Linked DNA regions of Homo sapiens. The protein of the gene in region 1 purifies or fractionates together with the protein of each later gene. This does not show direct contact. Each region holds a gene or a part of one and is shown in the gene's direction. Other genes may lie near its edges.

What was found.
Region 2: the proteins of DENND2B (region 1) and RNF10 purify together in Homo sapiens (co-immunoprecipitation; one large-scale study listed by IntAct). This does not show direct contact.

What each region holds. Positions count from the first base shown.
Region 1 is NC_000011.10:8,804,034-8,807,708, reverse strand, and holds part of DENND2B (DENN domain-containing protein 2B), read left to right. Parts: intron 1-3,675.
Region 2 is NC_000012.12:120,561,713-120,565,387, forward strand, and holds part of RNF10 (E3 ubiquitin-protein ligase RNF10), read left to right. Parts: intron 1-1,232; coding exon 1,233-1,358; intron 1,359-1,619; coding exon of another isoform or gene 1,620-1,634; coding exon 1,635-1,911; intron 1,912-2,097; coding exon 2,098-2,231; intron 2,232-3,359; coding exon 3,360-3,477; intron 3,478-3,675. UniProt on the Homo sapiens protein: E3 ubiquitin-protein ligase that catalyzes monoubiquitination of 40S ribosomal proteins RPS2/us5 and RPS3/us3 in response to ribosome stalling.

The sequences.
Region 1 (3,675 bases):
TCCCAGAGCTGAGTCACAAATTGGATCTGTCTATGTTCCTTAAGGATTAAAAAGTAACATTCCTGTTCTCACTCCCTCTTTCCTCCTTCTACTCCGCTTCCTGTACCTTCTCCCCTTGGGCTCTCTCTCTCTCAAATTAGATATCAGTCACCCCGGGAAGATGAAACTTTGAAATACACTGGAGAACAGGCCAAGGACACCCTTGGTTCTGCTGGTTCAGCCTCTTTCCCTGGAATGAAGGGCGGGGTGTACAGATTCAGGAGGGCAATCCAAGTATCATGGCCCCACTGGTAGCCTAGACCTAAGAGAGGCTGTGCCCCACTCCCCACCGCATCTGATTCTAAGAACTGCATTACGGGAGGTCCACCTGGCACCTCAGGGAGATGGGAGGCTCTGAGGCCTGGGCCTTCTGAAGCACCTCCCTGTGGGGCAGTTGGGACTGAAGGATTGAAGAATACATCTTCCTTCCTGTCACTCCTCTTAGCTGTTAACTGTCATTGCCCTGGAAACGTCCCCATTTCCATCGTTGGGCCTAAGAGAGTCGGCCGAGGCAGCCAAGCCCGGGGAACACATAGTTGAGGCTGGAGGAGGCCTGGCAGCAGCCCTTCCGAGCCCTGGCTTGGCCTTCCTTCTGTGCCTCTGCATGGGCTTGGGAGGAGGGTGTGTTTAGGGCAGGCTGCGAGGAGGGGAAGGGGAAATCTGCAGGCAGATAATTGAGTTCTTTGAGTTGGAGGGACCATGGAAAGTGGAGAAGGGGCCAGGAGGGCATAGAGCGAAAAAAGAAAAAGAAAAAAAAAAAAGACCATCTGGCATAGTCTGCAGAGATTTGTCTTTAAAGCCTATGGGAAAACTTGCATTAGTGTGTGCCTTCTCCTGGGGAGGCAGGGGCTGGGGAGGCTAGGCATTTGTTTCATCCTGGAGGGGAGGTGCTATGTGTGTCTGTCTCAGTAGGTGGGTCGGAGGAACTACTGGGTGCATCTGTCTTAGAGGAATATGCCACGTAATATTGTGCTGATAGAAACACCTGAGCTCTCTATTTCTAGCCATAGGCCCCAGAAAGCTCTCCTGGGTGTGTGTGTGTGTGTGTGTGTGTGTGTGTGTGTTTTGAAGGGAGAGGAGGGTGTTAAATGAGTCTAGATTACCTTATTGAAGAATTTCTCCAAAGACCCCTTCTCTTATTTTTTTGGCTCTGATGTCATGAATGTACTGTTGTTGGGGAGGGTGTTGAAACTATCACTATACTCTTCTCATCTAAAACTGCCTGAATGTTAGATTTCACTGTCCTTATAAAAGAGTGAATTATATGCAGTTAGCGTATGAAGCCTTCTTAACCAAAGCAGACCTATTCCTACAGGCTTGTCACGAAACCACCACAGTTTCTCAAAGCTCCAGACTCTTCCTCTGTGTGACCTGTCATCACCAAAGGGGTTGTGTGTGAGCTGGAGATGGACTGTTGGAAATCACATAGTGGATGGAGGATTATTTGGAACTGGGAAAAAATGAGATAAACTGAGGGTTACGGGAGACAAGATCTGAGGCAGGAGGAAGACTACTGGAAGGAAGCAGGAGTGAGGCACTGGGCAAGGGGCCCTGGGCGGAGGCAGTTCTCAGGAGCAGCAGGTGGTAATCGAGAGAAGGGCTGACCTCGGAGGCCTACACAATTTAGCAGAAGGCCAGACTGCCCCCAGGGAGCTCAGGGTGACAGTGTCGTGCAGGCCCTCAGAAGCACTGGAGGGGGTAGGGGTGGCTGGCATTAGGGTTAACACCTCTGTTTGTTTGTTCTTGGCTCAGAGGTGTCTCTGGTGCCCATCTATGCAGTATTGGTCTGTTCACCCATTTAGTCAGTGAATACGGAGTGTCTGGGCCAAGAGCTGGGGAGGAACGCAGAAGTATCAAGTATGGGCCTTACTCCCATCTATGTCATGTTATAATAGACGTTGTGTTGTAGTTATTTCTTCCCCTCTCTCCCCCACTCTGTCTGTGTGATTAAGAGAGAAGCAGCATAGACCTGCTGCAGTTCTGAGTTTTGATGGTAGGGTTAATGACCATCTCATGCTCTTAGGCTGGGAAAAAGGAGGAGGGTCCAACAGACTGATTTCAAGCACGATTCGAATGAAGGAAGAGAGCCAACTGAAGGACTGGAAGTAGGAGGGTGAGGATTCTAGGCCTGTGTTGAAGCTTCTCTTGACAGTGTCAAAGGATGGTGTATGTGGGAGGGAGTCATAGGAAAGGGGAAATGGGAAAGTTGGAAAAAAACTATCAAGTCAGCTATTTTTAAAACTCTAGTTTTGTTCGAGGAACTGACTTTTGGTGTGCTTGTGACTTGGAACACAGGCTACCTTATGGAGTTCTGACAACTGAGTATTGTAGATGGTTTTAAAATGAACTAGCCTGTGGTGTGTTTGTTCAACTCTCAGTGACTCTTAGGTACTCAGTGAGTGCGTGGTGCTGCCTTAGAGCAATTCTGATGGAACCATTTGCATTTAATATGAGTATCTGACATGCATTGCAGTGCACTGCAGTGATGAACAGCTATAGCTCAGGGGTCTTAGAGGCCTAGCTTTAGAGCCTGACCTTGCTGTGTGACCTTGGGCAGGTTATTTAATCTCTCTGTGCATCAGCCTTCTTTGAGGCATCTGTAGAATGGATGTAATAGTACTTGACTTGATAGAGTTGTGGTAAGGATTAAATGAAATGATACCTGTAAATAGGCCAGTGCCTGGTACATAGTAAATGTCCAATGCTTTCCAGTATATTATTATCAACTTACAGCAGCATTTTGAAGAGAGTGGGCTGGTGTCTCTCAAACAGGTTGATGTTACTACGCTGGGAACAAACCAGATTCTTCTTTTAGAAGTAGCTGCTGGTTGGGCGCAGTGGCTCACGTCTGTAATCCCAGCGCTTTGGGAGGCCGAGGTGGGTGGATCACTTGAGGTCGGTGTTTGAGACCAGCCTGGCCAATATGGTAAAACCCTGTCTCTACTAAAAATACAAAAACTGGCCGGGCATAGTGGTGTGTATCAGTAATCCCAGCTACTCGGGAGGCTGAGGTAGGAGAACAGCTTGAACCTGGGAGGCGGAGGTTGCAGTGAGCTGAGATCGCACCACTGCACTCCAGCCTGGGCGACAGAGCAAGACTTCGTCTCAAAAAAAAAAAAAAAGAAGTAGCTGCTATTTTGCATCTCGTTCATCTTTCTGTCAAGACCCCAGGTAGTCTGGTCTGGGGTCTGTGCAGTCCTGGGTGTGTAATAATACAAGATTTCCTAATAACACAGGATTTCCTCCCCACCTCTCAAAGCTGCTTGTGTTCAGTTCCTGCCACTTGACAGACAGCTCCCCATGTCTTATGGCTGCTGCATCAGGCAGAATGATCAAAGAAAGGGCACAGGGAGCCATGGACAAGGTAGGGAGAGAAAGACAATTGCTTTGGAAAGTCACCAGCAGCCAAGGAGGACTGCCCTTTCAGACCTGGCCTACACGTTAGGAAGGTACTTGAGAGTGTCCTTTAAGAGGAAGGAGTAGGGGCCAATGAGATTTTGAGGACACGGCAGCCGCCCACACTGGAGAGGCCAGAAGTCCTGAGTCTGAGGTAGTCCTTGTCAACCCAGCTTCACAGGTTCAGCTCTTTCCTCCTGCTGTGGGATGCTCACTCCTCACAGACGGGGAGACCCGTCC
Region 2 (3,675 bases), on another chromosome or scaffold:
GAATTCCCTTCTCCCTGACTCCCAAGGGCTCCTTGGGTAGAGTCCTGTGTATTTAACTTTTGCTTTCTTTCTATAATACGTTGCAGCCGTATTTGTTCAAATGCCATTACAGGCATAAGAAAGGCTACATAGAATTAGAGCTGTCCAGGCTGAGGTGGAGTTAGCTAAATCCTTCCTACTACTCTGGACCTCTGTCTGAGCATAGTTTGTAAAAACTAGGTTAGTTTCATGTTCTTAGATTTCTGTTCTGGAAGTTTTTTGTATAGTGTTGTTTGTGTCAGATTCTCTTTTATTTTTTTTAACTTTTAAGTTCAGGGGTACAAATGCAGGTTGTTACATGGTAAACCTGTGTCATGGGGGTTTGTTATACAGATTTTCACCCAGGTATTAAGCTTAGTACCCATTGGTTATTTTTCCTGATCCCCTCCCTCCTCCCACTCTCCACCCTCTGATAGGCCTCAGTGTGTGTTCCCCTCTATGTGTCCATGTTTCATCATTTAGCTCCCACTTAGAAGTGAGAACATGTGTGCGATATTTGGTTTTTCTTTTTCTTTCTTTCTTTTTTTTTTTTTTTTTTTTGAGACAGAGTTTTGCTCTCGTTGCCCAGGCTGGAGTGCAGTGGCGTGATCTCGGCTCATCACAACCTCTGCCTCCAAGGTTCAAGTGATTCTCCTGCCTCAGCCTCCTGAGTAGCAGGAATTACAGGCATGCCCCACCATGCCTGGGTTATTTTGTATTTTTAGTAGAGATGGGGTTTCTCCATGTTGGTCAGGGTGGTCTTGAACTTCCAACCTCAGGTGATCCGCCCACCTCAGTCTCCCAAAGTGCTGGGATTACAGGCATGAGCCACCACACCTGGCCGTATGTGTCTTTACAGTAGAATGATTTATATTCCTTTGGCTATATACCCAGTAATGGGATTGCTGGGTGAAATTTTATTTCTGTCTTTAGGTCTTTGAGGAATCACCACACTGTCTTCCACAATGATTGAACTAATTTACACTCCCCAGTGTCAGATTCTAAGCAGATTCCAATCCTTAGTGGGTATTGCATGCTTTTTGCTTCCTGTTTCCCTCAAAGTTGAGATATTTAAGCACCTAATTCCTTCCCATTGGGTCTCATTGCCTTTTAACTTTTGGTCCTGTTGAGAGGCCATTCTAAGCCCTTGCCCTTCAAGCTAAGTGTGTGTCTGGAAACTTAACCTTCTCTGGTGTTCTCTCTGGCCACGTTAGACTCGGGAAGAGGCTCTGTCGGGATTGGCCGGAAGCAGAAGGGAGGTCACTGGTGTTGTGGCTGCTCTGGAACAACTGGTGCTGATGGCTCCCTTGGCGAAGGAGTCTGTTTTTCAACCCAGGAAGGTTAGTGTGTTCCTGTTACTAAGTGGCTGCCGTTCCTCAAATGCTGTCATTGAGCTGGTAGGCATTACTGTGAGATCTAAACCTTCTCAAGAGAAGAGGGGACAATGAGTATTTTCTGTATGCTTGTTATTAGTTCTTTCCCCAGGGGTGTTAAATCAGTGAACACGACAGCTAAGATAAACATCTAGGGAGCTTGGCTCTTAGGTCTGCATTTGCCACATTGCTTTCGGAAAGCAGGAGATATCCTTTCTGTTGACTTAGAGTTTGCTGCAACAGGGTGTGCTGGAGTATCTGTCTGCCTTCGATGAAGAAACCACGGAAGTTTGTTCTCTGGACACTCCTTCTAGACCTCTTGCTCTCCCTCTGGTAGAAGAGGAGGAAGCAGTGTCTGAACCAGAGCCTGAGGGGTTGCCAGAGGCCTGTGATGACTTGGAGTTAGCAGATGACAATCTTAAAGAGGGGACCATTTGCACTGAGTCCAGCCAGCAGGAACCCATCACCAAGTCAGGCTTCACACGCCTCAGCAGCTCTCCTTGTTACTACTTTTACCAAGGTGAGGGTGCCGGAAGAGAGGGCTGGGTTGCCGCAGAGGTGTTTCAGAGGTGACCCGGTGCTCTAAGCAGAGGAGCGCCACTAGATCCTGTGGCTTGGGTGGCTTGAGCCCTTGGGCATGGGGAGGGGTGGGGAGCCTCCTGGGGACTGGCCAAGACTGGTGTGTGATAGAGCCCCTTGTCCTCAGCGGAAGATGGACAGCATATGTTCCTGCACCCTGTGAATGTGCGCTGCCTCGTGCGGGAGTACGGCAGCCTGGAGAGGAGCCCCGAGAAGATCTCAGCAACTGTGGTGGAGATTGCTGGCTACTCCATGTCTGAGGTGAGGCCTTCCTGTAGAAATGGAGGGTCAGGCAGCAGTATTAACCTAATCTCTTTGAGGTAGGCCTAGCCATCCTAAGTTCACAAACCTTCAAGGCCTTTAGTTTTTGTATTTTTAGTCTTTCTGTCAGTGATGGTGCTGTGAATTCTTTGTAAGTGAAGTGTCCCCTCAGCATGCCAGGGTTCTGTTAAATCAGTTAATGCTGTTCCCTGCTTCTCTGGTTCATTGATTGTAGTTTGGGGATATAGATATTTCTTTTATTTAAGATGGAGTTTATTTTTGTTTCTTATCCTCCTTATTGCTTGGGAGAAATGTCACAAATTTGTTGTAAGATTTAAAATTAGACTCTTTGAGTACTATAAATTTTTCATCAAACATATGCAGAAAAAGAATAGAAATGAAAATAAATGGGCTGGATGTGGTAGCTCACACCTGTAATCCCAGCACTTTTGGGAGGCCTACTCAGGCAGATTGCTTGAGGCTAGGAGTTTCAGACCAGCCAGGGCATTTCTACAAAAAATACAAAAAAAAATTAGCTGGGTATGATGATGTGCACCTGTTGTCCCAGCTCCTCAGGAGGCTGAGGCAGAAGGATCACCTGAGCTGGGGAGATCAAGTCTGCAGTGAGCTGGCCTGGGCGGCAGAGCAAGACCATGTCTCAGAAAAAAAAAATTGGGCTTCATTTTCTACTATTTCAGGCCAAGTGTCTTTCAATAGGGAGATCTGCTTTATCTTCCTTCCCAGTTATTTATTCTGTCAGTGGTTCCCAGGTTTTTTTCTGTTCTGTTTTTCTGCCAACAAATAACTTTATCTTCTCTGTTCGTCCCCCTCAGCTGTGGGGCCTTGAAAAAATCAGAAACAGCTGATGGGCTTTAGATTATTTGTTGCTGGACTCAGTTCACTCCTTTGCAGTACAAACCAAAAATAACTGGATTTGGTTGCTTATTCCACCTTGCTGTAGGTTGACAGTTTCTCTTTGGCTTTTCAAAATGAGGATAATTGAGCACTACTGTTTCCAGCCCCAGTGCTGGCTGTGTTATGTATATATTGTTGGATATCGGGGTTAGGACCCCCTGCTTTCAGAGTTAGGCTTGCTTTTGTTGAGTATTGGTCCTTTTTCCAATGTAGGATGTTCGACAGCGTCACAGATATCTCTCTCACTTGCCACTCACCTGTGAGTTCAGCATCTGTGAACTGGCTTTGCAACCTCCTGTGGTCTCTAAGGAAACCCTAGAGATGTTCTCAGGTGAGAATGCCCCTGCTCTGCTTCTCTTTATAGTAGGGTTCAGGGATTCTTGTGGCTAGACACCCAGTGGGGGAGGAAACTTATGGAACTGTATCATGAGTCTTAGTACCTCCTAAACACTTCATCTGTTCATCTAGTCCAGCTGGGCCTACTGTTGTGGGTTTAGCTGCTAATACTGGGAGGAGGTAATGACCATGT